7 linked regions of the Homo sapiens genome follow. The protein of the gene in region 2 interacts with the protein of the main gene of each other region in a pairwise test. Each region holds a gene or a part of one and is shown on either strand. Other genes may lie near its edges. The genes, in order: PECAM1, MBIP, DIP2A, FXR2, PLEKHF2, ING5 and CCNC.

Region 1 (3,888 bases), on a different chromosome or scaffold from region 2:
AAGCTCCGCCTCCCGGGTTCACGCCATTCTCCTGCCTCAGCCTCCCGAGTGGCTGGGACTACAGGCACACGCCACCACGCCCGGCTAATTTTTGTATTTTTCAGTAGAGACAAGGTTTCACTATGTTGGCCAGGCTGGTCTTGAACTCCTGACCTCATGATCCACCCGCCTCGGCCTCCCAAAGTGTTGGGATTACAGGCGTGAGCCACTGCGCCCGCCCGGCAAATTCACCATTTTCCAGTGTATACTTAACCATTTTAAAGTGTATAATTCAGTTGCATTAGGTCCGTTCACATTGCTGTGCAACCACCACCACTATCCATCTCCAGAGCTTTTTCTTTTTAAGTGAAAGCAAGTTTATTAGAGAAGTAAAGAAACAAAAGAATGGCTACTCCATAGGCAGAGCAGCCACTGAAACACTGTACCCATTAAACACTAACTCCCCATTGCCCCTCCAGCAACCCCTAGCAACCACTGTCTACTTTCTGTCTCTATGAATTTGACTATTTGAGGTACATCACATAAGTGGAATCATATATTTGTCCTTTCATGTCTGCCTTATTTCATTTAGCATAACGTTTTCAAGGTTTTCCTGTGTTGAAAATATATCAGAATTTCATTCTCTTTTTAAGGTAGAATCATATCATTTTAAAACATTTCAGTTGGACCATCTAAGTTCAGTCCTTCATTTTCAAAATTAAAAAACAGGCCTCAAACGGGTACATCTCACGTTAGCTAGAGACAGAACTGGAGCTAGAAGTCAGATCTCTTACAAAGTTGCCTTTCTTCTTCTGTGGGTAAGTGGGGCACCCTTGGGACGCTGTGCTGGGCGTACATGGGTGCTTGATGAAGTTACTTGGTGGACTGATGTGATTGATGTCCAACATGTATGCAGGGACAGAGGCTATGGTCCCTACAGAGCAGGCATGGAGAGAAGGAGAAATACATACGGGCAGGAGCCAGGAGAGGGAGGGTGTAGTGAGCAGAGACCGCGCCACTGCACTCCAGCCTGAGTGACAGAGTGAGAATCCATCTAAAAAAAATTGCTTGCTAAAGAAGTGGTCTCCTGAGGTCTTAAGACGTTCCTGACAATGTCTTGAGTGGGTGGGAGAGAGGCTGCAGTCATTGTGCTGTGGAATTTCAGAGGTGAGAACCACACCTAACCAAAATTACTTTCCCTGTTTGCCTCAGTGACACAGCTGCAGGAACCCTGGTGGGTGTTGTATTAAGTAAATTTGACCTTTATTCTTTGCAGATCTGTGAAATGTTGTCTTCTGAGGGGCCACGTGTATCTGTAGTGCTGAGGACTCCTTGGGCCTCTGAAGTCACAGAGAGAACCCTGCAGGGTGGGGGACCAGTGTGTGACAGCCCTGCTTTGCATTTTCTTTGAGAAGTGCTGTCATTTTGCATTTCTCTCCACCAGGGCAATCTTCAATCTTGAGAGGTGTGATCATAACTTGCCTTGTTTCTTGTCGCTACAGAGAACGGAAGGCTCCCTTGATGGAACTTAGACAGCAAGGCCAGATGCACATCCCTGGAAGGACATCCATGTTCCGAGAAGAACAGATAATCCCTGTATTTCAAGACCTCTGTGCACTTATTTATGAACCTGCCCTGCTCCCACAGAACACAGCAATTCCTCAGGCTAAGCTGCCGGTTCTTAAATCCATCCTGCTAAGTTAATGTTGGGTAGAAAGAGATACAGAGGGGCTGTTGAATTTCCCACATACCCTCCTTCCACCAAGTTGGAACATCCTTGGAAATTGGAAGAGCACAAGAGGAGATCCAGGGCAAGGCCATTGGGATATTCTGAAACTTGAATATTTTGTTTTGTGCAGAGATAAAGACCTTTTCCATGCACCCTCATACACAGAAACCAATTTTCTTTTTTATACTCAATCATTTCTAGCGCATGGCCTGGTTAGAGGCTGGTTTTTTCTCTTTTCCTTTGGTCCTTCAAAGGCTTGTAGTTTTGGCTAGTCCTTGTTCTTTGGAAATACACAGTGCTGACCAGACAGCCTCCCCCTGTCCCCTCTATGACCTCGCCCTCCACAAATGGGAAAACCAGACTACTTGGGAGCACCGCCTGTGAAATACCAACCTGAAGACACCGTTCATTCAGGCAACGCACAAAACAGAAAATGAAGGTGGAACAAGCACAGATGTTCTTCAACTGTTTTTGTCTACACTCTTTCTCTTTTCCTCTACCATGCTGAAGGCTGAAAGACAGGAAGATGGTGCCATCAGCAAATATTATTCTTAATTGAAAACTTGAAATGTGTATGTTTCTTACTAATTTTTAAAAATGTATTCCTTGCCAGGGCAGGCAAGGTGGCTCACGCCTGTAATCCCAGCACTTCAGGAGGCTGAGGTGGGCGGATCACCTGAGGTCAGGAGTTTGAGACCAGCCTGATGAAACCCTGTCTCTACTAAAAATACAAGAATTAGCCGGGCGTGGTGGCGCATGCCTGTAGTATCAGCTACTCAAGAGGCTGAGGTGAGATTATCGCTTGAACCCAGGAAACGGAGGTTGTAGTGAGCGGAGATCGCGCCACTGCACTCCAGCCTGAGTGACAGAGTGAGAATCCATCTCAAAAAAAACAAAAAACAAAATTGCTTGCTAAAGAAGTGGTCTCCTGAGGTCTTAAGACATTCCTGACAGTGTCTTGAGTGGGTGGGAGAGAGGCTGCTGTCATTGCGCTGTGGAATTTCACAGATGAGAACCACGCCTAGCCAAAATCACTTTTCCTGTTTGCCTCAGTGACACAGCTGCAGGGACCCTCGTGGATGTTGTATTAAATAAATTTGACCTTTGCTCTTTGCAGATCTGTGAAATGTTGTCTTCTGAGGGGCCACATGCATCTATAGTGCTGAGGACTCCTTGGGCCTCTGAAGTCACAGAGAGAACCGAGCAGGTCTATGTTTTTGTTTTGTTGTTTTGAGACGGAGATTCGCTCTTGTTGCCCGGGCTGGACTGCAGCGGCGCAACCTCTGCTCACTGCAACCTCCGCCTCCTGGGTTCAAGCAGTTCTCCTGTCTCAGCCTCCCGAGTAGCTGGGATTACAGGCACATGTCACCACGCCTGGCTAATTTTTGTATTTTTAGTAGAGATGGGGTTTCACCACGTTGGCCAGGCTGATCTCGAATGCCTGACCTTTGGTGATCTGCCCGCCTTGTCCTCATGTGTGCTCCACAGGCCTTTGGGTTGGGATTGCAGGCGTGAGCCACCATGCCCAGCCTAGACTCTTTTGACAATATGATGAAAGCTGTTGGTTCCTTTCCCCAACACACACACACCGAGTTGTATCACGAAAATGTCATACAATTTCCAGGTTTTCTGAGTGGTGGGCTCAGATTGAGGTCAAAGGATCAGACGACCTCTAACGACCTTCATGTCTCTGTTGATGATCTGGGGACAGCCAGATCCCCTGTGTCCAGGGAGTTCCTTAGTCCCTTGCCACCACCAGAGAAGGGCAATTGCCACGGGAGCTGCAAAGACCCTATTCCTACTCCTGGTGCCTTACTTATGCAGCACGACTGAATTTTTTGTTTTGTTTTGTTTTGTTGAGACAGGGGCTTGCTCTGTTGCCCAGGCTGGAGTGCAGTGGCACAACAATGGCTCACCGCAGCCTCGAACCCCTGGGCTCAAGCGATCCTCCCATCTCAGCTTCCTGGGTAGCTGGGACCAGAGGCGTGAGCCGCCATAGCTGGCTAATTTTTAATTTTTTTTTTGCAGAGATGAGGTTTCACCATGGTGCCCAGGCTGGTCTCGAACTTCTGGGCTCAAGTGATCCTCCCTCCTTGGCCTCGCAAAGTGCTGGGATTGCAGGCATGAGCCACCGCCCCCGGCCTGTGGAGCACACATGAGTTTAAAATTACTTTCCCTTC
Region 2 (4,415 bases):
AGTAAATGACAAATTTTCCATTGGCGACCTACAAGAGGAAGAAAAGCACAAAGAAAGTGATTTAAGAGATGTGAAAAAGACACAGATCCATTTTGATCCAGAAGTAGTTCAGATAAAGGCTGGAAAAGCAGAAGTAAGAAGGTTTTTTGGCGGGGGCGAGAGGGTATTATTTTAAAAAATCTTATGTTTACACTGTTAAAACTTGTTGTTTGTAGATTGACAGACGAATATCTGCATTTATTGAAAGAAAGCAAGCTGAAATCAATGAAAACAACGTCAGGGAATTTTGCAATGTTATTGATTGTAATCAAGGTAACTACCTGGAAATTAATTTTCATAGGGTTTTAAGCACAATTTTTATAGTTGCTCTAATCTTTTATTTATTTTTTAAATGAATAGCTTTTAGAACACAATTCAATTTATTTCATGGATTTAGTTAGTAATTAAGACAGTAGAGTTTCCTTCTGCTTAATAATAGACTATATTGCAAACTGGTTTTCATTTTGGTTACACAAAGTAAATGCTAACATTAAAAAGTGTTTATCACAGGTGAAGATTATTTTAAAGTTCCTTTAGGAAATGAAGGTGAGGTACGAGTGAGAAGGTTGATCTATCTCACTAGTAAAAGGAACTGAGCTCTATGAATTTCAAACCTATACATGTACTGTGAAATCATGATGTTAATACGTAAGTGAACTTAGTAAAGTTAATATTCCTCCAGAGGGAGCAGTTTTCTCACTACTCCTGAGCTGTTTGAAATGTCCTGTGTCACGATACAACCAATTTATCATGAAGACCATGGTGTCTTGCTTTTTTCCTTTCTGCCATAGTGCATACATTTGCTGTTTTTCATCTGATTCACCTTTACCTCTCTACTTGATGCTATAGTACATTTACAAATCTGCAAGTATGCTGCAGAATACAAAATATTGCAATGCAGTGCCATAGATTATACTCAGGCACCATAGTAATAATCAGAACAAGTAGTTCTTAGGAAAAATTATGGAGAAGAGTTCATAATTGGAATGAACATGTTTCTTGTTGCCTCTAATATCTCATGGCTAATTATTATGAACATAGAATTGTCAGATGAACCTAGAAATGACTCATATCACATTGGTACACTGATTCTCTTAATGAAATAATATAGGCTGGTATTGGGTCCTGAATTTAGCTGTGTGCTACTATTAACATTACACATGTGCATCTCTAAATTTGGTATATTTTCCTGTTAGCTTTTCAGAACAGGTGCAACAATGGCAAAATCTCAGGTACTACAACCAACTACAAGCGACTATGAGAAAGGGTTTGTTGAGAGAGCAAGCACATGTGTCACTAATGTTATTCCTCTGTTCTCCCTGCTAACTCTATTATTATAAACCACCAGGGGATAGAAATTGACGAGAATTGAAATGCTCAGCAGGATTCCTTGGCCCATTCAATTCTTTGCTGGCTCAAAACAGTGCTAGCAAGAATTGCTGTGGAGAGTGACTAGCAGTCATACACTCACACCATGCTGAATTTCTCACTGATGGTCAGTTAATCTATATGTTTGGAATATAGTTCTGGAATGGATGATAGCTTCTTTTTTTAACCCTTAGCCCCATGAAATGGTAGGAAGAGAATGGAGAAAGGATGGCCCTTTAAGCATATTTTGAGGTGCCTCCAAAAAAAAAAAAAAGGAGGAAAGATGTCTATTTAGTCTCTAGATATAAAAGCTAAGTGGATTTGGAATTTTATGCATACTATTTGATTTATCAACAGAACTACTAAGGAAAGTTCAACTGAAAAAAATACAAATGTATTTTAATATGTTAGTGTGTTCCTTTTAATACCTACAAATTTAACCTAACTATAAGCAGTGGAATTTTTAAAAATCAAATTTCATAGGGGGGAAAAAATAATTTTTTTTAAAGAATCTCATTTACCAGCCATTTTTTACAAAATATTCAGGGGAATTTTACAGGAGATTTACTGCCAATGTGTGGCCTTTAAACATTATTTCAAACATAAGTATATATTATTACTATGTAGTATCGTATGTTAATATATAACAATTATGTTAATTAGTTGTATTATATGTTAACATCTTTCCAATTTTCCCCTTTTGTAATTTATGCATTGATACTTAATTTGAAAGAAACTACTTTTCAGCTTGGAAAAAAATAGGGACAAATTTTCACAATAGACCTTTACTAAAATGAAACTTTTTTGAAAAGTGGTGGGATAAGAAGAAGTAGATGACTTTTGTGATGAAGGGTTTTTAAAATGAGCACTGGAAATCTAGGTAGAGTGGAAATGTATGTGTACTTGAGGTTTTGAGGTCATCTTTGTGTGGAGTTCTGAAATAAAAATGTTAAATAATTCTTTTTGTTGGATGTTCACTAATTTGGTCATTAAAATAAAAAATGCTGAATTAAAAGAATTCTAGTAAAAATGATGAGTTTTATTTCTACGATGAAGTAGAATTTAAATACTCTATGGTAGATTATTTTCTCCAGTGGCCCAAATAGTGACATTGGTTTTCAAAATTGTATCAATTTGTGCCACTTAATGTTGATGGCTTTTCTGTATATAAATCTGAACATTAGGTAAGAATATTAGATATTATGATAAATTTTGACAGGTAAAGAAGGTCACTAAATTCTATCCTATGTGTGATAGTAATTTATTGTTACTATTATTTATTAAAATTATTATGAGTAAAATGTTAATATGAATTATTGAAAGTTTATTAAAATCTCATACATTTGAAGGGAAGAATATATTTAAACTTATATTTATCTAAATTCTCCTTAGAAAATAGTTGTGCAAGAACTGATGCGATTTTTACCCCTTACCCCGGATTTAAAAGTCACGTAAAAGGTAAGTAACCACCACATGACATCTGAGTCACTGACAGAAGTCTAGATTATTAGCAAAATGGAATAGAAATAACTTTCCCATCTAAATTTTATTTTAAAACAAAAACATCTTGCCGTCCTTCATACTTGTGGTTAGATGGTCTTTATGAAAAAAATATAAAGTGCTGTTAAGGAATAAGAATTTCTGATTTTTGAAATACAAATGTATATAGGCTCAAAAGTTTCTTAATTTAGTTTCTAGAGTTGTGAATACATACGGACCACAGACTAGACCTGAAGGAATTCCAGGGTCAGGTCATAAACCTAACAGCATGCTTCGAGACTGTGGTAATCAGGCTGTAGAAGAACGACTACAAAATATTGAGGCCCACTTGCGGTTACAGACAGGTAAGCAAAGTGCTAAGTGGCACCTCATAATGAACCTTTGCAAATGGTTAAAAAATTGCAGTTCATTTAGTCACCAAATTTTCATTTAGCTCCTAACATTTCTTGAACAGTAAGTGCCAGTCACTCAGGAAGTGTTATGTGTATGTCAATTCACTTAAAAGGTCATAGTACCCTTTTGAGATGGTGGTGGTGTTATCACTGTACAGATAAATAAATTGAAGTTTAAAGAGCCCAAGCAAACATGCCTAAGATACTAAGTGACAACTCTAAAAAAAAAAGAAAAAAGAGATAGTCCAGTCTTGCCCAGGTTGTACTTGAACTCCTAGGCTCAAGTAATGCTCCTGCTTCAACCTCCTGTGTCAGTGGGACTACAATCATGTGTCACTACTGCACCCTGCTCAAACCCAAGTCCTCACTGGGTGCAGAGACTGAGTCTCCCTCTCCATTTAGTCACCATGTCTGTTGATTCTGTTTTCTAAATAAATATCTCTCAAATCTGCCCACTTCTGTCTTATCTCTACTGCTACTACTAGAGTTGAAGCCACTGTGATCTCTGGCTTGGACTGATGGAAGGATATTTACTGGTTTCTTTGCCACTGGACTCCTCTAGATCATCTCTACCCTGTGGCCAGATTGCTTTTTCTAAAGCTCAAATTTGATCTTGTTTCTTCCCAGCTAAAAATGTGGAGATTGGGATTGAAGGGGGTTTGTAATTTTAAATAGTATTGTCCACATCTGTAGTTCCAGCTACACCTCTGGGCTTCCCATCTCCCACTCGTTGTGCTGCTTTAGGATCTTTATACTCATGCCCTTCTGTCCATGCTTTTTCTTCCTAATCCTAGACCAGTGCAGATTCACCTTTTGTATAATCTTATATAGCACCTGGTATTCCCTGCTCCCCTTTAAAGCAGTTATCATGGTTCTGTTTGTTTAATGTCTGTCTCCTGCTAGATAGTCCGTGAGAGTGCAACTATGTCTGTCATATTCATTTCTTTGTACCTATTACAGTGCCTGGCACAAAGCAAGTGCTCAAATGTTTATTGAATGGACAGTTGCTTATTTCACCTTTGCAGATGTATGTACGGAGGGACAGAAAGTTAGTGTTTGACTCTCTCAGGGTAGGTCAAGGGATGATGGCATCCTAATGAAGTGACATTTGAGGCC
Region 3 (4,415 bases), on a different chromosome or scaffold from region 2:
TTAAAAAAATACTTAATGATGCCTACAATGTGCACAGTGCACAGTAATAAGATTAAAAGGACCCCTACTCTCAGGAGGCTTAAAATCAGTCTTTCCTGCTAGAAAACAAGTTCCGTAGGAGAGAGACTTTGTTTTTCTGGTGTATTGGAAGCATCTAGAACCATGCCCAGTAAACATTTATTTTATGATTGATTGAGTTCTAAAGCCTACAAACCAGCCAGTGATTTATCATTGACCAAGGTAAAATCAGCTTATGGTGTGAACCTCAGTATCAATACAGTGGAGTGATGTAACCTGGAGTGCTGGGGAGGGGGCTTTGAATGGAACTGGGTAGCAGGGGCTATGAAGAATGATGCCCAGTGGCTCAAGGCAGGAAAGGAGGCCAGTGTGGTGGGGGCCAGGTGGTCCCAGGTAGGGGATGCAGATAAGGCTGGGGGTCGCTGGGTTTTCCCTAAGGATGCAGTGGGATCCCAGACCTTGCGGGCTTTGAGTCCCAGTCCAGATCTCAGGTTCTGTCCTGATGGGGCCCTGACTCATATGGACTGGCAAAGCTTCCGGGATTTGGAATCTCAGGATCTGCCCAGCCCTTGTGCCTGGACACAGCACATAAGTGCGTCCACTGGTCTCTCTCTTCCACTGCCTTCTGTCAGTAGAAGCCACCAATCGAGAAACAGGGAGTTTTGATGTTACACTGGTCTGCTCTGGAGTTTTATATTTATTAGACTGAATTGCACTTTTTATCTTCTTAAGAAGGACTAAAAAAGCTGCGAGGCCTGGCAGGGGATCAGGGAGGATGAGTGTCCTGAGCAGAGAGGTAGGGTTACCAGGTATTTCTGTTTGCCTTGAACTGGTCACATAGCCCCAGTGCCCCTCAGCAGAGAGACAGGGTGAATGAAGGAGCTGGTGTAGTCAGTCCTAGAGGAGACACACAGATGCCTCTGAGAAAGCCGGTTGCAGATGACACACGCCCAGGCTCAGTGCAGGTGACCTGTGGGCATGGAAAGTAGTACAATTCAGGGATGTTTGCTTATCGCTTATTATGTATTTATAATGGTGTCGTATGGAATATTTTATTGAAAAGGCCAGAAAGGTCTTCTTTACCCACGTGTTTCTGGCTCTGCCCTGGGTGAATGGAGTGCCCGCATCTCTCCCTCTTAGCTGGGACCACACAGGAGATACTTGCATGCCTGTCCCTTCACTGCTAGTGAGAGAGTACAGATGGTGAGAAAAGACACCAGTCGTGGACCATGTGCGGTGGCTTATGCCTGTAATCCCAGCACTTTGAGAGGCTGAGGCGGGCAGATCACTTGAGGTCAGGAGTTCGAGACCAGCCTGGCCAACATGGTGAAACCCCATCTCTACCAAAAAAAAGACACCAGCCGTACGTCTAGGACTGACACATTGTCATTATCATGGACGCTAATCACAAGGTGTCGTGTGCAGTGGCGTGCAGGTGGTGTGCACGCAGATCTGCGAACAGCCCACCTGCACGCACCAGCATACAGATGAGCTCAAAGATCGCTTTCCTAGGGCACCGTCACAAGCACTGCAACCTGTGTCCAGCTGCACAAAAGGGCTGAGAGAGTGGCCGCGGCTCTGATGGAGAAGGGAAGACTGAGTGTTGGGGACCATGTGGCTCTGGTCTACCCACCAGGTGGGCTCACTGTGGGGCTGTCCACCTGCAGCTCTTTGTAAGCAGCCTCCTATCCTAAGCAGCCCCCTAGACACTCCCTCCCCGAAGCATCTTCCAAAACTAAGCTCAGCCCCTCCTCTCTGCATGTGTCTGCCTCCTCAGCTCAGCTACCCCTGTGGAAACCCAGGAGTCACCCATGCCCCCCCAGCACCACCTCCCCTCCTCTCTCGCAGGAACAGTGAACAGAGGCTGGTGGGAGCCTCTTGCGGCCGGCCTCCTCACAGCCAGTCCTTGTCTCCACAGGGGTGGACCTCATTGCCGCGTTCTATGGCTGCTTGTACTGTGGCTGCGTGCCTGTCACCGTGCGGCCCCCGCACCCTCAGAACCTCGGCACCACACTGCCCACCGTCAAGATGATCGTGGAGGTGCGCCTACCTGGCCCGCGGGTCAGAGTCTGTGAGTGGGAGGCTGCAAGGCTGCCCTCCGCTGCCCCCTTTTCTGGGCAGCTTGAGAGGCCCCGCCCACCCACCCTTGGCCCCTCGCCATGCAGGTCAGCAAGTCTGCATGCGTCCTCACCACGCAGGCTGTCACACGGCTGCTCAGGTCCAAGGAGGCTGCTGCTGCCGTGGACATCAGGACCTGGCCCACCATCCTAGACACAGGTGCGTGTCCTCGCACTGCCCAGGACCAGTCCCTTTTCCTTTCTTTGTTGTAGGTGTGGTGTGGCCTGGCTGCCGTCCAAAAACACACGTGAGGCAAGAGCAGTCCTGGCAGGAGCCTGGCTGACAGCAGGGGGTGCCCCGGGCCCTGGTGGGGAGTAGGGGTCCCTGTCCCATGTGTAAACCCACGCTCCACTCAGCCCACAGCAGCCGCACCCAGTCCCAAGTGGTGTGGAGCACAGCCTTGCCCCTCTCACCCGCCTCCTACTGGCATGGGGGCTGGCAGCTCTCTGAGGCTTTCTGCAAACGCTTTGAGGACACAGCTCCCACCGCATGCCGCCACTCCAGCATCCCTGTCCCCATCATTGGTGAATGCTGTCATGCCCCATGAAATGCTGAGGGCCAACAGGGTGAGGGTCAGAAACCCCCCTGGCTCCCCTCTGCCGTGGACCTGTCTCAGCCTGGGCTGGATGGGGCTGGGCCAGGGCAGCTGGTGTAGGGGAGGGCAGGCTCAGAGCCAAACAGCTGGCCAGGGCCCCAAAGCCTCACGGGCTTGCCTCAAGGGGAGCGGTGCCTGCCCTGCTGAGCCTGTGTCCAGTTGCACCCAGGGAGGCAGTGGTGTCTGGCTCATGGGGCCACGAGAACTTGATGAAGCACGCAGAACCCAGAGCCCGTCCACAGCTATTCTTGCTGTGGTCGGGACTCGGCTCATCTGGGCTTTGCCATAGGCTCTGTGACTTTTGGCAAATCCCTAGTCCTCTAATCTTTCCTACTGGTCAGTGACGTGATGCCTCCCCTCTTCGCCCTGCCTCGTCCCCCATCCCCACAGGCTCAGTGTGGTCTTGGTGGGACCGGGTAGCGTTTCCATGAAGAATGAAATACGCTTTCCTGAGCACGCACAGCCTGCATCGTCACGGCCCCACTCCCGTCTGAGCTCACTCTCTGCAGGACTCCCAAGGACAAATCATGTGTCGCCTCTTGCCTGTGAAAGCCCAGAGCGTTCAGAATACATGTGGGAACACTAATGTTGCTGGTGTCTCCTGTTTAACAGATGACATCCCAAAAAAGAAGATAGCAAGCGTTTTCAGGCCCCCCTCCCCCGATGTCCTCGCATACTTGGACTTCAGCGTGTCAACCACTGGGATATTAGCGGGAGTGAAGGTAGGTCCTCTGAAATCTTGTTTGCTTCAGCCCCTAGAAATCAGGAGGAGTGGACAGAAAGGATGTCAGATGCAGATTTAAACTGACAGGTCCTTCTTATGCAAAGCACAAAGCAACAATTTTGCTTCTTAAGATTTGTGTTAAATACCAATAAATGCTAAGATGTGATTAGCCTGAGAGTAATGCGTTTTCTGATGCATTATGGTTATGTCTAAACTTTCTGATTTATGACTGTCTAGCTTACAGGAACTGGTGGCTTTGAAGAATCTCTTACCTTGCTGGGAGTCAATAGCTCAATTAAAATTTTTCAGGCGGGGCGTGGTGGCTCACGCCTGTAATCCCAGCACTTCGGGAGGCCGAGGCGGGTGGATCACAAGATCAAGAGATGGAGACCATCCTGGCCAACGTGGTGAAACCCCGTCTCTACTAAAAATACAAAAAATTAGCTGGGCATGGTGGCAGGTGCCTCTAATCCCAGATACTCAGGAGGCTGAGGCAGGAGAATTGCTTGAACCCGGGAGGCAGAGGTTGCAGTGAGCCGAGATTGTGCCATTGCACTCCAGCCTGGGCGACAGAGCAAGACTCTGCCTCAAAAAAAAAAAAAAGAAAAAAATTTTAAAAATTCATTACCCTGAAATTTTGTTTCAAAGATTTTTAGTGTACCATTTCTTGGGTATTATTTAGGTTATATGGGGATTTGAGCCAACCGTCTTTTAAGGAAATAAATATGATGTTTGGTAGTTCGGAGCTATGGTCTAGCCATGTGAACAGCGGACACTGCCATCCACCCTCTCCCCTCCTGAATTTCATTTCACTTTTTTTTTTTGAACTTTATTTTACTCTTAAGATGTCGCACGCGGCCACAAGCGCCTTATGCCGCTCCATAAAGCTGCAGTGTGAGCTGTACCCCTCGCGGCAGATCGCCATCTGCCTCGACCCCTACTGTGGCCTTGGTTTTGCCC
Region 4 (4,415 bases), on a different chromosome or scaffold from region 2:
TGGGCCACGACCCTGGCTAATTCTGTATTTTTAAGAGAGACAGGGTTTCTCCATGTTCGTCAGACTGGTCTCAAACTCCCGACCTCTGGTGATCCACCCGCCTCAGCCTCCCAAAGTGCTGGGATTACAGGTATGAACCATCGCACCAGGCCACTTTTTTTTATTTTTAATATATTTTTAAATTAAAATTTTTTTTTAATAGAGACAGGGTTTCGCTATGTTGCCCAGGCTGGTCTTGAACTCCTGGACTCAAGCAATGCACCCGCCTTAGCCTCCAAGAATGTTGGAATTACAGGTGTGACCACTGTGCCCAGCCCATTTTTTACCTAAAGATATCTTGTTCCAGCACTGTCTGTTGAAGACTATCCTTTCTGGCCAGGGGCGGTAGCACACGCCTGTAATCCCAACACTGGGAGGCCGAGGCTGGCAGATCAGCTGAGGCCATGAGTTCGAGACTAGTCTGGCCAATATGGCAAAATCCCATTGCTACTAAAAAAAAAAAAAAATAATAATAATAATAATATATAAATTAGCCAGGCGTGGTGGCACATGGCTGTAACCTCAGTTATTCAGGGTGGCTGAGGCATGAAAATCACTTGAAGCCAGGAGTTAGAGACTGCAGTCAGTCAAGATCATGCCATCGCACTGCAGCCTGGACAACAGGGCAAACTCTGCCTCAAAAAAAAAAAAAGAAGAAAAGAAGAAAAGAAAAGACAAGACTATCCTTTCTTAGCTGAATTGAACTGCCTTTTCATTTCTATCGAAAATCAGGAAGGGCAATTTAATGTATAATGACAGAAGATTGGTAGTTGATGGAGGACTTTTGGGAGTGACAGAAATGTTCATTCCTTTGATTGCAGTGATGGACTCAGTTACATACATGTCAAAACTTAACAAATGGCACACTTTAAATATGTCTACTTTGTTGTATGTCAATTTCAGCTCAATAAAGATGTTTTTTAAAAAAATTAGAGAGCCCATACAACACAGGGAAACCTCATCTCTGCAAAAAATTTATAAATTAGCAGGGTATGATGGCTTGTGCCTGTAGTCCCAGCTATTTAGGAGGCTAAGGTGGGAGGATCACTTGAGCCAGGGAGGTCGAGGCTGTGATGAGCTGTGATTGCACCACTGCACTCCATAGCTTGGGCAACACAGCAAGACCGTGACTCAAAAAACAAAATAAATAAACAAAAATAAAAGAATTAGAGGTTTCAAAAGGCTAATACACAAGAACTATTCATGAGCTTTGCTGCTAGGGACAAAGGCTAAGCTTAGGAGAGAAAACACCAAAAATGCCCTTGGCAAATGCACAGCTCCCACCTCATAGAACTAATCAATCACAAACACTTACCAGATTGCTATTTCCTTACGATGGGAAAATCTAAGCCTGCATTTCACTCTTCATACAAGCCACCTTTCTCGTCTTTAGGGATATGTCTTGCTATAGAGGCTGCAGTCAGTCAAGATCATTCTTGACTGAATGTTCTTTCTTAGAGCCTTACTACTGCCCAAGGCTTTAATTACTACTGGTACTTCCTGGCCTCTTTTTTACCCATGCTTTTTCTTTCTCTGACATTCTCTTCTCCAGAAATGTTTTTTCTACTCTTCATTCAGATTTTTTTCCTTTTTCAAAAAGAACCTGAGTTATGAGCATGTTCATTCAGGTTTAATGCCAACTCCTACTGTTCTCCATTCAAGTCTTCTGAGGCACTTTTACTTCTACTTGCCTGGGTCTCTCTTCCCTTTTGGGTTCTTCCCTTAGCTCCTGCTCAAGTGTCCTCCCCACTCCCACAACCACTAATATTTTATCCATTCCCTCTTCTTTTCCCTGTAATCCCAACACTTGGAGGCCGAGGTCGGTAGATCAGCTGAGGCCAGGAGTTCGAGACCAGTCTGGCCAATATGGCAAAACCCCATTGCTACTATATATATATGTATACATATACATATATATACACATACATATATATGTATATATACATGTATATGTATATATATACATGTATATGTATACATATATATACATGTATATGTATACATATATATATACATGTATATGTATACATATATATATACATGTATATGTATACATGTATGTATATATATACACACACACACACACACATATATATAAATTAGCCAGGCGTGGTGGCACATGGCTGTAACCTCAGCTATTCAGGGTGGCTGAGATATGAGAATCACTTGAAGCCAGGAGGCAGAGGCTGCAGGGTCGTCTGGATTTCTAGAATTATTCCAACCAGCCTCTTCCGCTGACTTTATCCAGTTCTTTACCCAAAATGTCTACTCCAAGCCTTAGAAGTAGTTTATCAAGGCAGGAGTTACACTGACAGAAAGAAGTGGAAAAGAGACAGAGATGAGAATCACTAATTTACTGCTTTTGTGGAGAGATTTCTACTCCTAGATATATTCAAATCGGCTATGCCTATGGTGTAATCCAATTCTCCTCCACCATGTTAGGCTTGGCCCCAGGGTGAGCAGCAATATTACCCTAGTTTTCCCAGCTACCATGACTTCCAAGGCAGAAATGCAAAGCTCAGAATGGAGTAATCTCTCACATTACTCAGCAGTTCAACCAAATCTCACTCAACCCTTATATTTCCAGGGTCTTTTTCCTTCAATTAGTCTCCAAAACTAGCTCTGTCCCCAACTTCATATTCCAATCCTGTCTCTGCTCCTAAATTCCACCCATTCATCCCATACTAGTTTTTTTCTCCAAGGGTATCTGTGGTGGAAGTGAGCCCCAAGTTCTGCTCAGTCTACGCTCATTGTGAAAATAAGCAGGTGAAGGCAAGAGCAGGTGGGTGGAATGTATTAGGGAGCCACCTAGATCCAGAGGATAACTTGATTCAGTGGCCATAGCATCACCTGGCTTTGGCTTCTGGAGCCTGGCACCAAGCCAGCAGAGGAAGAGAGAGCCCCAGGTTCCTAGGTACTTTGGTTTCCTCAAATTAGAAGATATAAAATTGGTCCCCACCTTCACCGTCTTCTAGTTCTAGACTCCCAAAGCAAAGGAGGGGGTTCTAGGAGAAGAGCAGGAACAGTCTGAGTAAAAACCAAGTACTGAAGCTGAGGATGCCATGTTGATTAAGAAAGGAATGGGGATTAGGATATCCAGATGAGGTTTGGAGTAGGAAGATTGCGCCCTGGACGGTGAATACTTCATTTGGGAGAGTACAACTTAAAGAATAAAATACATTAGGCCATTTTGTACGTCTTAAGCCATTTTGTACGTCTTAAGCATGATGACTGCGGTTTCAAGCTCACGGTGAGGTATGCCTCCCTCAACCCTTGTTACGGATGCCAGTCTGACATGAAAAAAAAAAGGACGGAAAAAAAGAGTAAATTCTGACAAACTTAATTTTCAGATAGCTACAAAATAACTTAGATCCCAGATCTAATATTTTATCCTTTAAGAAAACTGACGGGAGGGCGTGGTGGCTCACGCCTGTAATCCCAGCACCTTGGGAGGCCAAGGCGGGCGAATCTCTTGAAGTCAGGAGTCAGAAACCAGCCTGGCCAACATAGCGAAACCCCGTCTCTACTGAAAATACAAAAATTAGCCAGGCATGGTGTTGCACACCTGTAATCCCAGCTACTCGGGAGGCTGAGGCACAAGAATCACTTGAACCTGGGAGGCGGAGGCTGCAGTGAGACGACATCACGCCACTGTACTCCAGCCTGGATGACAGAGGGAGACCCTGTCTCAAATAAAAAAAAAAGGAAAAGAAAGAAAAGAAAACTGACAACAGGGCCCAATTCTGAGAGAGGAGAAAGGGACCTTCCCAAATGTACAATTCCAGAAGCAGTGTAAATACTCCCTGACCCATCCCAAGTTTGCTGAGTCATGAATATTAAATCAGCAGCAAGGTCAAAACGGATAAGTATCTGTAGGGTACTGAGAGTGGAAGATTAGCCTGAATTTAGGGATTTGTGGTTTTTAACTCAGGAACAGGGCAGAAAATGCTAACCTGCCCAGATCCACATTACCACATTACCTGGCTTTCAGCTCAACCCCAAACTCTACTCTCTGAATCACAGTATCCTGGTCCCCATCTATTCAAGTCTATCACTGCCACAGCACACAGGAGAAAGGGAAAAGATTCAGAGAGACTTTCTGCTGGACACTTATATGTGGGACAGAAAACGTGTCCCTTCCCAGCCATCTCATACAGTTCATTTGAACTGGATACCAATCTTTCTCAGCTGTGCAGGGCTCCTACGCTTCCTAGAACAAAGCAAACATCATATCTTGATCTTGGACTCAACTTAAGAATCACTTTTCTTGGAACTCAGAATTTGGGGGTGGTAAGGACCCAGATGAAGGAAAAGATACCAAGGTAAACAGGGAGGGCCACTTTAGGAAGCTATTTCAACAAAGGTAATGCAAGTTT
Region 5 (4,115 bases), on a different chromosome or scaffold from region 2:
CTGCTTAAGGCCAAAGGCCTTAGGTTTTGTGCATGCCCATAGTTTTTCAGATATATGTCACAACCCACCAATCAATCAAGTGGGCTGCCAGAATCATTAAAATAAATGAAGATAAAAGAATGCATCATTCATTGTTGAAATAATTATACGAGTGTTTGTAACCTTGCAATATAAAATGTGTTTATGTTGGTCATTGTCAAACTTTGAAAGCTATTTGCTTTGCTGCAGCCAAATACTAATTAATAATGCCCCAAACCTTGCTTAAGTTGCATCATTATTAAACAGGGAGAAAGATTTATGAACAAAGATTTAGACTTAATATATTGAAACATTTGGACAATGAAAGATTATCAAGACACCAGCTGGGTAAATCATGACATATCCATCCTTTCAGGTGATTTGTTCAAGGTAGTATTCCCTTATCTTCAGTATTTTTAGGGTTTGCAATGAAGGTCCAGAGGTTAGTTAATAGCTTCCTTAGAGTTCTTGTAGATTCAGTGGAGTTCTTAGGAACAATTAGTGTACCATAACATACTGTAACATCACAGAGAAATCAGATTTGAGGCTTGTTCTGCTGTGACAGCCTTGGGCAAGTTATTTAACCCCTCTTTGGCTGTTTACTCATCCATAAAATGGAGCTAATAGTGCATGTATCATAAGGTTGCTGTGAGGAGGAAATACAGTAATAAGTGCAAAGTGCTCAGCACATTGGTTGGACTCCCTATGAGTAGAGTTCATTCCAGGTTAAGTTTTGCTTTTACATTATTAAATATCTTTGTGCCTTAATTTCTTCATCAGCTCACAGTTCAGCTAATATTATTAGATGCTTCTTTGGGGGACAATAAAAACTTCTCTAGTAACTTCATAGGCATTTCAAACAGTTCAAATCAGAAAATAATATGAAAAGCACAGTACAAATTTATGATAGTATTAATTCTCATAGTAGCAATAATAGGAAATCTGTTTGTGTTGTATATGAGTTAATAACGATATGTTCAAATGGGTGGACTCAGTAGTTGATTCAGGTGGAGAGAAATAGATCCTTTCAGTTTTTTTTTTAAAGTGCCAATGTCTTTTCCTGTTTTAGGGCCTTTGCAGTTACTCCTTTTGTCTGGAATATTCTCCCCTATCCTTACCCCTTCTTATGTCTGTCCATCTAGTACAGCTGAAATGACAACATTGTAGAAAGGCCTTTCCTGACCATGTAGTCTGAATAGCTCTCAGTTTCTTTTAAAAATCACTTTAAAAAAAAAATCATAGCATTGATTAGTACTAGATTTCAATTTTGTTTTCTCTTTCCTTCTCTCCAACTAGAATGTAAACCCTGAAGAGCAGGGACCTTGCCTGTATTGTTTAATTTATTATTTTTTAAAATTTTTATCTGTTGTCACATACTCAAGTATGATCGCCTGTGGTGTTTATTTTTACTTTTCCTGCACCTAGATCCTAAGTGCCTGACAAATACTTGTGGAATGCTTGAATATAATGTAAAGTATGAAAAAATGATCCATAATTATACTTTCCAGAGATAAATTACCATTGTTGATAGTATAGTATATATTTTTTAACTTTATGTTGTGTGTGTGCTTACAGATACAGATGTCTATGATTATGCTTTTGAAATATGTATTCCATTGAGTCTAAAGATAAACATTTTTTACTATATGTATTTGAAATTGGTCTTATAATCAACGGTATGCTGTGGTTTAATTGGCAACATTTTTCTCTTTATGAGTTGCACATAAATATGTCTTAAAATCTATAGCACCTTAGATGTGATGAAATGTGGTATTTATTTGAAATAAAAATGAGATCAGGAAGTTCATCTCTTTTCCCCACCTAAAGATCTTGAGCATTTCCCTTGTCACTGGTTTTAGATCTGTCTTATTCTCAAGATATATGATTAAGGGTGTGTCATAACTTTTTCAATCAGTTCCTCTTGATGGCTATTTGGAGCTTTTCCAATTGTTTTCCTGTTATAAACAATGCTGTGCTGATTATCCTTGTATATATCTCTATGCACGTGAGTGAAATTTATTTAATTAGATTGGTGAATACACATATTCTCTGTAGTGTACAAGGGTACCTATTTCCCTATACCTTTATGAGTACTGAATCTTAGTAAATTTAAAAATTTTTATTAATCTAAGTGAAAAATATACTAATGTTTAATATAATTTCTTTAATTATGATAGAGATTGAAACCTCTTTTCCTGTTTATTAGCCGTTTTTATTTCCTTTTCTGTGATGTACTTGTGCATAGGATAGTAGGCTTTTAATTGGCTGGCATATTAGTCCTAATTAGAAACCTTTCCAGTTTGGAACCATGCATTATCCTATTAATTCTTGGGAACAACTTTTAGGCCTGCTACATCCTACTTTTGTGGAGGACAAGAGGGCTTTATAAGGACCCAAGATTTGCAGGGAGACAGAATTCAGAAATAACCAGAATTCTAGTGTCCTTTATAATGAAGGCCAAGAAGGGCTATAGTGTCAGTTTTTGAGCTGAATACTGGAACTTACATACTATGCTGTTAGTCTTTAAACTTTAAATGGTCTTCTTCTCAAGGCTTGTTGTTCTTTAATATGACTTGGTTATAGTATAGTAGTATTAGTTTAGTAGGTTTGAAATAGGATACAACTCTGGGACTTGAGTGAAGTCAATATTGGACTTAGAGATTAAATGTTTAGATTAATAGGGTGTTTTGCACATTGTTAAAATGTTATTAACATTTTTTAGTACCTTTTCTGTGTCAAACCGTATCAGTTTCAAACAAAACTATCAGATGATCTCTGCTTTTTAGGTTCTGCATGGTCTCTGGAGGAACAGATTTCAGTCCTTTGGTAAAAGTGAAGCTAGAATATACATGGAATATGGATAGCTCACAGGAAGGGTTTTAGTCTAGCATGGGAGTTTAAAGGAGGCTTCCTGGAGGAGACACGATTACCTAAACTAAGTCTCGAAGGATGAATATGAGTTAGCTGCAGTAGTAAGTAGTAAAAGGAACAACAGTGAAATGGACTACAAGTAGTAGAGTGTTCTTAGAATATGACATTTGAGGTGAAGACTGACTTATGGTGAGGTTGGAGTGACAAGAACCAAGTAATGAAAGGCCGTGAACACCCTGTATTTAATAGGTTAAGGGATCATTTTGAGCAATGATGGGGTCAAATTAGGGTTTTAGAGATCACTGCCCAAAGATTGATTTGGGGGCAAGATTGAAGGCCAGGACACATGTTGGGAAACAGTTCTAGTAATCCAGGTGAGAGAATTAAGGCTGTAGCTCAGTGGTAATAGCTTACTTGGAAAATTGTAGTCATTTTTCTTAGTTTATGTAACATTTTGTTCCCTATTGTTCAGAATCCCATTGAGATTACATTTCATTGAATGGGGTTTATTATTTTGCAGAGATAAGTTATGTTAATTATCCAATCGTCTTTCATTCAATTATGTCTGTAGGAAGTTTATACTTTTACAAATACCTGCTTAACTAGTATGGTGCTACGTGGAGATGATAAATAAGTGTTTTTCATCATTTTAAAAATTGAGAAATGTTAGCCCTTTTGATGTGCTTAGTGATTATCTTAGAGGGAAAGAATTTTAGAACATTTTGCCTTTGTGTAAAAGCAATGATTTGTTAGCTTAATTTATATATAATTAACTTATAGGAATTTATAATTTATATGTGCTAATTTCTTTTTCTTTTTTTTAAAAGGCTATTAGTGAAAGATGGTGGATCGCTTGGCAAACAGTGAAGCAAATACTAGACGTATAAGTATAGTGGAAAACTGTTTTGGAGCAGCTGGTCAACCTTTAACTATACCTGGACGAGTTCTTATTGGAGAAGGAGTATTGACTAAGTTGTGCAGGAAAAAGCCCAAAGCAAGGCAGTTTTTCTTGTTTAATGATATTCTTGTATATGGCAATATTGTCATCCAGAAGAAAAAATATAACAAACAACATATTATTCCCCTGGAAAATGTCACTATTGATTCCATCAAAGATGAGGGAGACTTAAGGAATGGATGGCTAATCAAGACACCAACTAAATCTTTTGCAGTTTATGCTGCCACTGCTACGGAGAAATCAGAATGGATGAATCATATAAATAAAT
Region 6 (4,415 bases), on a different chromosome or scaffold from region 2:
GAGATTGTAGGGCTGGGTGCTTTGGCTCATGCCTGTAATCTCAGCACTTTGGAAGGCTGAGGTGGGAGGGTCACTTGAGTAGCCGGGATCACAGGCATGTGCCACCATTCCTTGGTAACCAGCTTTTAAAAAAACATAATCAGTCCTATTTCCCTGCTGAGGGTACATGTCTCATGATTTATTAGCTGTCTGACTTTAGATATAAAGGAAGCGTGGAGAGGGAAATTTCTGTTCTCCCCAGGAGGTGTTCGTTCTGTTTTAGTCCAGGCCAATAGGGCTGGGGGCCTGGGGCGGGGCAGGGTCTCAGCTTCAGCTCCACCGAGGCCCCTTGAGGACCTTGAGGTTTCCTCTCTCGCCTCCTGCCCCAGCGGCTTCCACAGTTGGTAGAAGTGCGGGGGAGGAGACCAGCGGTGCCCGAGCAGACCCCTTGCTCGAGAACTCCGAGGTTGCAGGGATTTTCCCTCTGCTTTTAGTTGCTCTGTGCAGCCTCTGGACTATAAATGTCGGTGGGGACGCGGCCGCCATGTGTGGCTGTGTGGGCTCAGCGTGGCCCAGTGGCCAGCCCAGCCCTCACTCAGTGCATGAGGCAGGCGGACGCCGCCCCCAACCCCCCAACACCCCCCACTCTGGCTGCAGGTCATCTAGCTCTTGTTGCTCCACAGCTCCCCGACATCTTTGAGAATGTGGTTTTTGTGACTTGCTGGGTTTTGTGTTTTCTAACTCAGTGGCAACAGCGTTCTGAGTCTTCCTGCTCCTTCCTGCTCGGAACCTGAAGGCCCTGTCCCGACCGTGCCTTTTCTGCGTGAAAGTGGGACTCCTCCTGGTCTCTTCCTCACCCAGTGCTGTTTCTCAAGGGTATGCTAGGCATAAGGAATGCAGGCACTGGGGGTCCTCGTGGGGGTGAAGGAGACTCCAGCTCCCTGTTGGGGTCGGGGCTTCCTCCCTGAGGGCTCTGCCCAGCTTCAGAGACCTCAGGAACAGCCAGCACCTCTGCAAACACAGGAAGATCCACTGTGGCCTCATGGCTTTTCCTGTCCTGACAGTGCGCTGACCAGCACTGTTTAGTAGCAATGCGGAGCCTGGGAGCTCAGCGCTGCCTGCCGTGCAGGTCCCAGTAGTGACAGATGAGAAGGGTGATCACCGATGGCGACAGTTGCGGGGCCCTGCGGCTCTGGATCTAGCTTGTGTGTGAATCTCTTTCTTCTCTGTGCCCCCAAGTGGCAGTGCTGCTCCTGTCCCATTGCAAGACGTCGAGACAGGCTGGTAAGGCCAGCTCTGAAGCTGGGCTCTGACGTCCAAGGCGCCAAGGAGGCCCCTTCCAGAGGGACAGGAGGATGGTGCAGGTGGGCAGACGGGTCATCCTGAGGACCAGTCGGTTGGACCCAAAGCCTGGCCTGCCGGGGCGGGAGTGTGCACTCGGGTGCCTCCAAGGGCATCATCCTGGGTGTGTGCAGGAGCCCGCCTGCCCCTGGGCTCTGGAGTTCTGTGGTGCGCGTCCCTGACCCATCAGCACAGTGGGTATTCACGCCCCTCGTGGTCACGCTGTGGTGCCAGGCCGCTCTGCCTCAAGGCAGGTCCTGTTCCCTGCTGGGGACCCAGGCGCACGCACCATCCTGTCCCTGTGGACTGCCCTCTTCAGGCCTGTTCCCCACGTGCCCGGGGCTCTTCCTGGAATGCAGTGTTCCTAGACTGCACAGATGCTCCGTGTCTCGTCTGAGATCCCGTGACCTGAGGCTGCCCCCTGCACTGTTGCTGCCCTGTGGCCTTGCTCTGGCGAGGCAGAACCTGTGTGTGTGGATGAAGGGCAGTGTCACCTGTAGCACCTGGAATCCCGGGGCTTGGACAGGCAGCCAGCCCCCTGCTAGGAGCCACGTGGAGTGCTGGGAAGCCATCGGGGCCGGGCGCGGAAGGGCTCGCTGGCACCGTCTGGCGAGGGGTGCCTGCCACACCCTGGGGAGTTAGCACAGAGGGTGCCTCTTGTGGCAGTGGTGCTGAAGGGAGTCAGCAGCCGCTGACAGTTGGGGTCACCCTGGCCTGTGCAAGGGACAGGGCTCCCCATGGCCTCCTGGTTGCCTCCCTCAGGGCTGATAGCAGCACTCCCTGGCCACACGCCATGGCGCTCCCTCAGGCGAGACTGAGAGGCCAGTGAGGCCTGCACGGTGGCCTCAGCTTCTGGGGTGCCCTTGCTGGGCGGTCCCCTCAGGCCCCCGGCCCTCTCCCACAGCCATCAAATCTGGCCAGCGCCCTCGAACCTGGTGATGCTGAGACACAGGTCAAGTGGCAGCTCAAGATGTCAGGTCGGGCTTTGTGGACAGAATTGGACTCGGCGCAGAAGAGGAGGGCGTCAGCGTTTCGGGGACGGTTGGCAGCAGAGGGTGCTGCCCTGCTCTCCGCGGGTGAGAGGTGACTCGAGGAGACCGCAGGAGCCCCTTGGAGGTGAAGCCACAGGTGGCATCCCGGAATCGGCAGGAGGCTGAGACGTAGACCCTTGCGTGCTGCTGTCAGAGGAGAGACCCGAAGACTACTTGAGACTGTTGCTTGAAAGCAGTGTCGGCAGCACCTGGACCTGGACTTGTGACGCTGATGGATTTCAGCTCTAAAGAGAAACCCCTGTCTATTCCCAGACAGAGAGAAAGAGCAGAAGAGCAGATTACCTGCAAAGGACAGACTTAGGTGGGCGCCCCTGTGCCAGAGGGCAGCGGGGAGGCCGGGTGCATGCTGAGCCCGAGTGTGTGTGTATGTGTACAGGCAATTGCAAAGGCGTAGAAAAGCTTTAGACAGGTATCCAAGGAAAAGCTGAGTGTTGATTCCCTCTGGGACCCAGACTTCTGCTCCTTGGCTTTCCCTGATCGTGACTGTTTTTCTCACGGCCACGTTCCTCCTGCTAACCTGCTGTGTTTACATACCAACTAGATATTCGTGGGTTGGAGGGTGGGATAGGGAAGATACTTTTTCTTTCTGTACTAATGGGAATACACTGTCTATAGTACCTGCAGCTTGTAAGTTTATTTGAAAAATACTGAAATATAAAAGCGTAAATTTCCCCCTAAGTGCATCCCTTTCAAACAGGAAAGTCTCCACCTGAGGTCTGTGGTCCTGGTGGGACGGCCATGGTGCTACAGGTGGCAGGCTTGGAGGGAGGCATAGACGGGGTGGAACACCTGCCAGGCTGCTGTGTAGAAACCCACGTGGGAGCTGATGGGGATGAAGGAGTGACAAGGATGGTGTGTGGTCGGAAGGGGCCCTGTGCCAGGTGGACAGCTGGGTGGGTGGTGGGCGGTCCAGGGAGTGTGTGGGGAGCTGCTGGTTGAGTCAGTATTGGGGCAGAGGTGCCTGAGTAGGTGCGTGGAGGGCCCGGGCGCAGGACGCATGGCTGTTCTCTTGGGAGGAGGTCACAGTTACGGGAGAGCTGTTGACTGTGCGGGCTGCTCTGACACCTGTCAGTCTGGAGTGGGAGGCTGGCAGGCTTCTCTCAGGTGTCAGCCGTCTGCTGGCAGAGGTGACGTGTGCTTGTTTCCAAAGGGGCCGGGGTCTTTGGAGGGATGGCCCAGAAGTGGGTTGAGTCCAGAGGTCCCCGGGGGAGTCCTGTCTGGGAGGAGGGACCGAGATGAGAGTGGACTCGTCCCCAGAGTGGGACCAGAACCCCGGTGCTGTGGGTGAGTGCTGCGCTTCACGGCCTCCTGGGGGCCCTCTGTGCCCCCATGCCCCTGCCTGGGCCCGAAGGTGGGCGCGAGGTCTCCACCCCTCTGCTGCCAGCTGCTGCTGTTCCTGGATTTTTGTGGGTAACTGTTCTTTCTAGCATCAGCTGACAATCTGTTCGTATACTTAATGATTTTCTTGCTGCGCCTTCTTAGAACATTGCGTGTTCAGAGGGGTTATTGAGGTTTTGAAAATGTGTGCTCCAGGAAGAAAACGTCCACAAGGTGTGTATTCAGTTAGTGCATGACTGCAGTGGCTGGCCCTGGAGTCGCATTCATTTCTAAAGGACAATGGGAAAAATGGAAGCAAGCTTATTCATTATGTGTCGCTCAGAGCACGGTACCAATTTCCCCCTTGGAATGATTGTCTTCACAGTTTTGGGGTGAGGGGGCCTTAAGTCAGAGACAGAAGGGCCCGTGGTGTCCGTGCCGCCTCACTTCCCACCATGGCCTTCAGTGGTGCCTGTGCCCTGTCCCCTGCAGGTCTGAGTTCACTGACACCATCCTGTCCGTGCACCCCTCTGATGTGCTGGACATGCCCGTGGACCCAAACGAACCCACGTACTGCCTGTGCCACCAGGTCTCCTATGGGGAGATGATTGGCTGTGACAATCCAGACGTGAGTGTCGCCTGCAGGATTCGCGCCATGGGGCGGGGTCTTGTGTGGGGCAGGGCTGGCGGATGTTGGCATTTCTTGTGTTTTGCATACAGAACATG
Region 7 (4,415 bases), on a different chromosome or scaffold from region 2:
CTTTCTTTTTAGTGATCCAAATAAAGTTTTTTTGTGTGAATTTTACATATCACAGGCACTCAAGACAATTTGAAAGTGTTACCTAATCTCCCTAAGACTTTATAATAATTATTAGACCCAGTTCAAGGTTGGCTAAAGCAAAGTACTTTGAGGATAAATGATTCTTTGGATTGACATCCTATAGTGGTCGTTTCTCTTAGAACTTTGCTTTGAAGGGAAGAAGATGTAGGGATAGATCTTTACTCTGACATGTAGTAGGTTTGTCACATAATTTTTTTAACTTTCGGTTCACTATTTTGTAAACTTATCTTTTTTTTGAGGATTCGTTATGGATTTTTATGTATTATTTATTTATTTTGGTGAGCTGTATAAAGCTAAGTGTGGTGGCTCACACCTGTAATCTTAGCACTTTGGGAGGCAGAGGTGGGCAGATCACTTGAGGCCAGGAATTTGAGATGAGCCTGGCCAACATGGTGAAATTCCCTCTCTACTAAAAATACAAAAATTAGCTGGGCGTGGTGAGGCACAAGAATCACTTGAACCTGGGAGGTGGAGATTACAGTGAGCCAAGATCGTGCTACTGCATTCCAGCCTGGGCGACAGAACGAGACTCTGTCTCAAAACAACAAAAAAAGTGGTAGTATTAACAAGTTTCATAGGTGTCTAATATTTTCTTTTTATATTTATTATAAAGATACTATGAAAAGCATTAAAAATATTTAGAAGATAGAGGGGAAATATTTATTCAACTTCCTTAATGGATGAATAATTTTTTCCTGTGGGGCAATTTCTGTTTTGTTGTTGTTTTGTTGTTGTTTATGCATACCTATATATTTCTTAACACATTTGCAAATCCTAGAATTAGACCACTGTGACTCACATAGAGCATGTGTAGGTTTTTTCCTTTGTTAAAAATGAACATAATTATGATTTAACCACATGGAAGTTACTGTTCAATGTTAATATTATAATGATACCAGAAGATACATTTAAAATTTCATTATTTGCCTTTTAGTTATCCAAGCATTAGGTGAACATCTTAAATTAAGACAACAAGTTATTGCCACTGCTACGGTATATTTCAAGAGATTCTATGCCAGGTAGGATTGTTTTTATTTTATTTATTTGAACTCTTATCTAATGTTGATGAACCTTAGCACAGTGTAAATGAATCATGTGTCTACCATAGAGTTATCTTGATTTTTTTCCCAGTGTGTTTTCTGTATGAATGATATTTAACTTTGTTTTATCATATTTTAGGTATTCTCTGAAAAGTATAGATCCTGTATTAATGGCTCCTACATGTGTGTTTTTGGCATCCAAAGTAGAGGTATAAAACAATTTTCTGTTCTTCATCAAAGTGTAGTCAATGTATGTTGGTTAATCTGCCCCAGTTTTCACATGGCCTATGTAAAATTAATAAATGGTAATTTATGCAAAATACTAAAATTGTACAAAATCAAAGAAATATATACATATCCTTATATATTCACTTAACAGACACATACAGCACTTACTGTGTACCAACTGACTTAATCTTTGTAACAAACTGGAATACATAGTAGTAGTATTCCCATTTTATAAATGAGGAAACTGAGACAGAGATGAAGAACTTGCTTAAGATGATATAGCTAGTAAGTGTGAGAGCCCGTGTTTGAACCATGGGAGTCTCGTTACCAATCCTGTGTTCTTAACTACTTTCCTCTGCTGCCTTTGAGACATCTATTGTTTGGCACTGAGTAGTATTCAGTAAGTACCACAGCTTGCCTACCATAACCTGAGAATGTCCCTTATGCTTCTCACCCATATGCTTATCTTCTCCTGTCTTCCCTCCCATCATCCTGATGATTGGCTGCCTACCAAGCCAGAAGGAAGGCAAGGATTAGGGGAAGCTATAGCTATATAGAGTCTAACAAGTAAAAGTTGAGGTTGTGAGCGTAGAGAAATTAGGTAAGGGAGAGAAGATAGATAGGAACTTGCGGCAGAGACTGAATTTCTGTTCAACTGTTTTACCTTTGTAGTATTTTTGAAAGAGCTCAGCTAAAGTCCAGAAAATAATAGCAGATATTGGCTGTTTTTCATAAATAATGTAGTCTTTGGTGGTGTGAAATCTTTGCATTATGTTTCTATTTTTGGATAATGTCTTAGAGTTCTATTCTTAGAGTTGTATTCTTGAATATTGAATGTGATTTTTACCTAGTAAGTTTACATTCCTTTTGGCACCCACTTTGATTTAGTTTTGTTTTAGCCATGATTTAAGGTTATCCATGACATCTTTCCCAACTGTTACCTAAATAATGACAATTGACTCTGTTAGAAATAATATTAAGACAAGCTTTCTAGAAGTTTATGTTTTCTAATTGTGAGTGGTAGTTTAAGAAGGCAGAATCAGTTAAGGTCCTTATTATGGATTGAGTTTTCTAATTCTAATAATTCTATGTAATATTTGATTTTATTTAAATATTACCATGTAATAATTTAAAGTCTCTTAAGCACAGGCAGTATGGAGGACCAAGACAAAAAATCTTTATAAACATTTAATCTTGTAGATTAATTTGAGGATTTTAATCTATCTTACTTGTTAAATATTGTTATGTGATTTACTGAGTAGAACTCTGTGATGTGATTTACTGAATGAAAGTTTTCCCTTTGAGTTTTGGATAAAGAATTATTCCTAGGCCGGGTGTAGTGGCTCACACCTGTAATCCCAGCACTTTGGGAGGCTCAGGCGGGTGGATCACCTGAGGTCAGGAGTTTGAGACCAGCCTAACCAACATGGCAAAACCCCGTCTCTACTAAAAATACAAAAATTAGCCGGATGTGGTGGCAGATGCCTGTAATCCCAGCTACTAGGGAGGCCGAAGCATGAGAATTGCTTGAACCCATGAGGTGGAGGTTGCAGTGAGCCAAGACTATGCCACTGTACTCCAGCCTGGGTGACAGAGCAAGATTGCATCTCAAAAAAAAAAAAAAAAAGAATTATTCCTGAGAAAGAGAATGTAGTCTTTCAGATTTGGTCGTAGCATTATTATTATTTTTTTTTTATCTCTGTGACCAAATCTTTCTGTATTTTCTCTAGTTTTATGGAAATTGTATGGAAAGCTCATTTAAGAACATGTCTCAGGCTTTTACTTTTTCTTTTCAGTTATTATAGTTGGAGGTTTAAATGTAAAACAAATATATTAGTACACATACATTTCCCCTACACAGGATAAGGATGTAGGCTGAAGGTATTTAAATAGATTTTTAGTTTAGCTCCTTTTGTTGGATAAGAAACCAACTCTTGATTTTTTTATTTTAAAATGAAGTGAAGGCTTTAGAAATCTTACGAGGCAATAAATGAAACAGTATATATAAGGTGGATCATAATAAATTTTAGTATTTTCACAATGGTGGTTGTTCAGTTGAAAGAGGAAATGGGAACTGACTTTGGAAGTCTTACGTAATTCCTGTCTCCCTGTTCTAAAAAGGATAGTAACTATTTATATGGTTTTTTTTTTTTTTTAGTTCTTTTGGTGATTAATTAAGGTTTATCTTATTCACAAATTCAACTGTTTTACCATAGAATGGCATGAAGTATCTGTTAATACAGGTTGAATTGAATAGGAAACATACTTAATATTCTTGCAATTAAGTATAGAATGTAAACAATCTTCTTGGAAACTAATTTAAATGGAAAAACTGACACTGTAACCTTAAGGCTTGGTTTCTAATTTGGTACCTTTTATTGTTATTAAATTATAAAATTATTTTAAAATATGTCTTAAGTTGTAGCAATTTGGGGGAGAGGTAATACAGGCAGAATATCCGTAATCTGAAAATCCTAAATGCTCCAAAATTTGAAACGTTTTGAGGGCCAACATGACATTCAAAGGAATGCTCATTGGAACATTTTGCATTTCAGATTTTTAGATTAGGGATGCTCAACCAGTGTAATGCAAAATATTCCTAAATCAGAAAAATCTCTGATCCTAAGCATGTCAGATAAGGGGTAATCAGCCTGTACATTTAGGAGTGTAAGTACTTCACACCTCAAGTAGTTAGAAGGTGAACAGATTGTAAACAGGAGCAAGGAAATCCTGTTTTGAATAGAGTTCAGATACCCTTAGATTCATTGGGTTAACATGTACCTGCTTTTCTTTCTTTAGGAATTTGGAGTAGTTTCAAATACAAGATTGATTGCTGCTGCTACTTCTGTATGTAAGTGCAAAAAGTATATCTGCTTTAAGGATGTAATTCTAAAGAAAGCTCCAGAGTACATAGATTTTTTTTTTTTTAGTTTATGAGACATATGAGATTGGTTGGCTTTATTAAATTTCCTGAGGATAACTTTATATCTAGTGTATCTGGCAAAAAAATCAAGCTAAAAGGTTTTTTTTTAAAAAGATATAAAGATATTACTTTTAATGTTAAAA

The links.
Region 1: the proteins of MBIP (region 2) and PECAM1 interact in binary tests that used the Homo sapiens proteins (3 or more experiments, as listed by UniProt).
Region 3: the proteins of MBIP (region 2) and DIP2A interact in binary tests that used the Homo sapiens proteins (3 or more experiments, as listed by UniProt).
Region 4: the proteins of MBIP (region 2) and FXR2 interact in binary tests that used the Homo sapiens proteins (3 or more experiments, as listed by UniProt).
Region 5: the proteins of MBIP (region 2) and PLEKHF2 interact in binary tests that used the Homo sapiens proteins (3 or more experiments, as listed by UniProt).
Region 6: the proteins of MBIP (region 2) and ING5 interact in binary tests that used the Homo sapiens proteins (3 or more experiments, as listed by UniProt).
Region 7: the proteins of MBIP (region 2) and CCNC interact in binary tests that used the Homo sapiens proteins (3 or more experiments, as listed by UniProt).

The regions. Positions count from the first base shown.
Region 1 is NC_000017.11:64,321,439-64,325,326, reverse strand, and holds part of PECAM1 (platelet endothelial cell adhesion molecule precursor), read left to right. Parts: intron 1-1,481; coding exon 1,482-1,511; 3' UTR 1,512-3,888. UniProt on the Homo sapiens protein: Cell adhesion molecule which is required for leukocyte transendothelial migration (TEM) under most inflammatory conditions.
Region 2 is NC_000014.9:36,310,409-36,314,823, reverse strand, and holds part of MBIP (MAP3K12-binding inhibitory protein 1), read left to right. Parts: coding exon 1-133; intron 134-215; coding exon 216-312; intron 313-2,799; coding exon 2,800-2,865; intron 2,866-3,098; coding exon 3,099-3,251; intron 3,252-4,415. UniProt on the Homo sapiens protein: Inhibits the MAP3K12 activity to induce the activation of the JNK/SAPK pathway. Component of the ATAC complex, a complex with histone acetyltransferase activity on histones H3 and H4.
Region 3 is NC_000021.9:46,552,639-46,557,053, forward strand, and holds part of DIP2A (disco-interacting protein 2 homolog A), read left to right. Parts: intron 1-1,530; coding exon 1,531-1,654; intron 1,655-1,936; coding exon 1,937-2,058; intron 2,059-2,183; coding exon 2,184-2,295; intron 2,296-3,343; coding exon 3,344-3,453; intron 3,454-3,764; coding exon of another isoform or gene 3,765-3,791; exon of another isoform or gene 3,792-4,200; intron 4,201-4,300; coding exon 4,301-4,415. UniProt on the Homo sapiens protein: Catalyzes the de novo synthesis of acetyl-CoA in vitro. Promotes acetylation of CTTN, possibly by providing the acetyl donor, ensuring correct dendritic spine morphology and synaptic transmission.
Region 4 is NC_000017.11:7,607,939-7,612,353, forward strand, and holds part of FXR2 (RNA-binding protein FXR2), read right to left. Parts: intron 3,336-4,415; exon of another isoform or gene 3,243-3,335; intron 1-3,242. UniProt on the Homo sapiens protein: mRNA-binding protein that acts as a regulator of mRNAs translation and/or stability, and which is required for adult hippocampal neurogenesis. Specifically binds to AU-rich elements (AREs) in the 3'-UTR of target mRNAs.
Region 5 is NC_000008.11:95,150,315-95,154,429, forward strand, and holds part of PLEKHF2 (pleckstrin homology domain-containing family F member 2), read left to right. Parts: intron 1-3,716; 5' UTR 3,717-3,730; coding exon 3,731-4,115. UniProt on the Homo sapiens protein: May play a role in early endosome fusion upstream of RAB5, hence regulating receptor trafficking and fluid-phase transport. Enhances cellular sensitivity to TNF-induced apoptosis.
Region 6 is NC_000002.12:241,718,758-241,723,172, forward strand, and holds part of ING5 (inhibitor of growth protein 5), read left to right. Parts: intron 1-725; coding exon of another isoform or gene 726-864; exon of another isoform or gene 865-1,218; coding exon of another isoform or gene 1,219-1,365; exon of another isoform or gene 1,366-3,050; intron 3,051-4,181; coding exon 4,182-4,317; intron 4,318-4,415. UniProt on the Homo sapiens protein: Component of the HBO1 complex, which specifically mediates acetylation of histone H3 at 'Lys-14' (H3K14ac) and, to a lower extent, acetylation of histone H4. Component of the MOZ/MORF complex which has a histone H3 acetyltransferase activity.
Region 7 is NC_000006.12:99,558,282-99,562,696, reverse strand, and holds part of CCNC (cyclin-C), read left to right. Parts: intron 1-1,015; coding exon 1,016-1,100; intron 1,101-1,260; coding exon 1,261-1,330; intron 1,331-4,148; coding exon 4,149-4,200; intron 4,201-4,415. UniProt on the Homo sapiens protein: Component of the Mediator complex, a coactivator involved in regulated gene transcription of nearly all RNA polymerase II-dependent genes.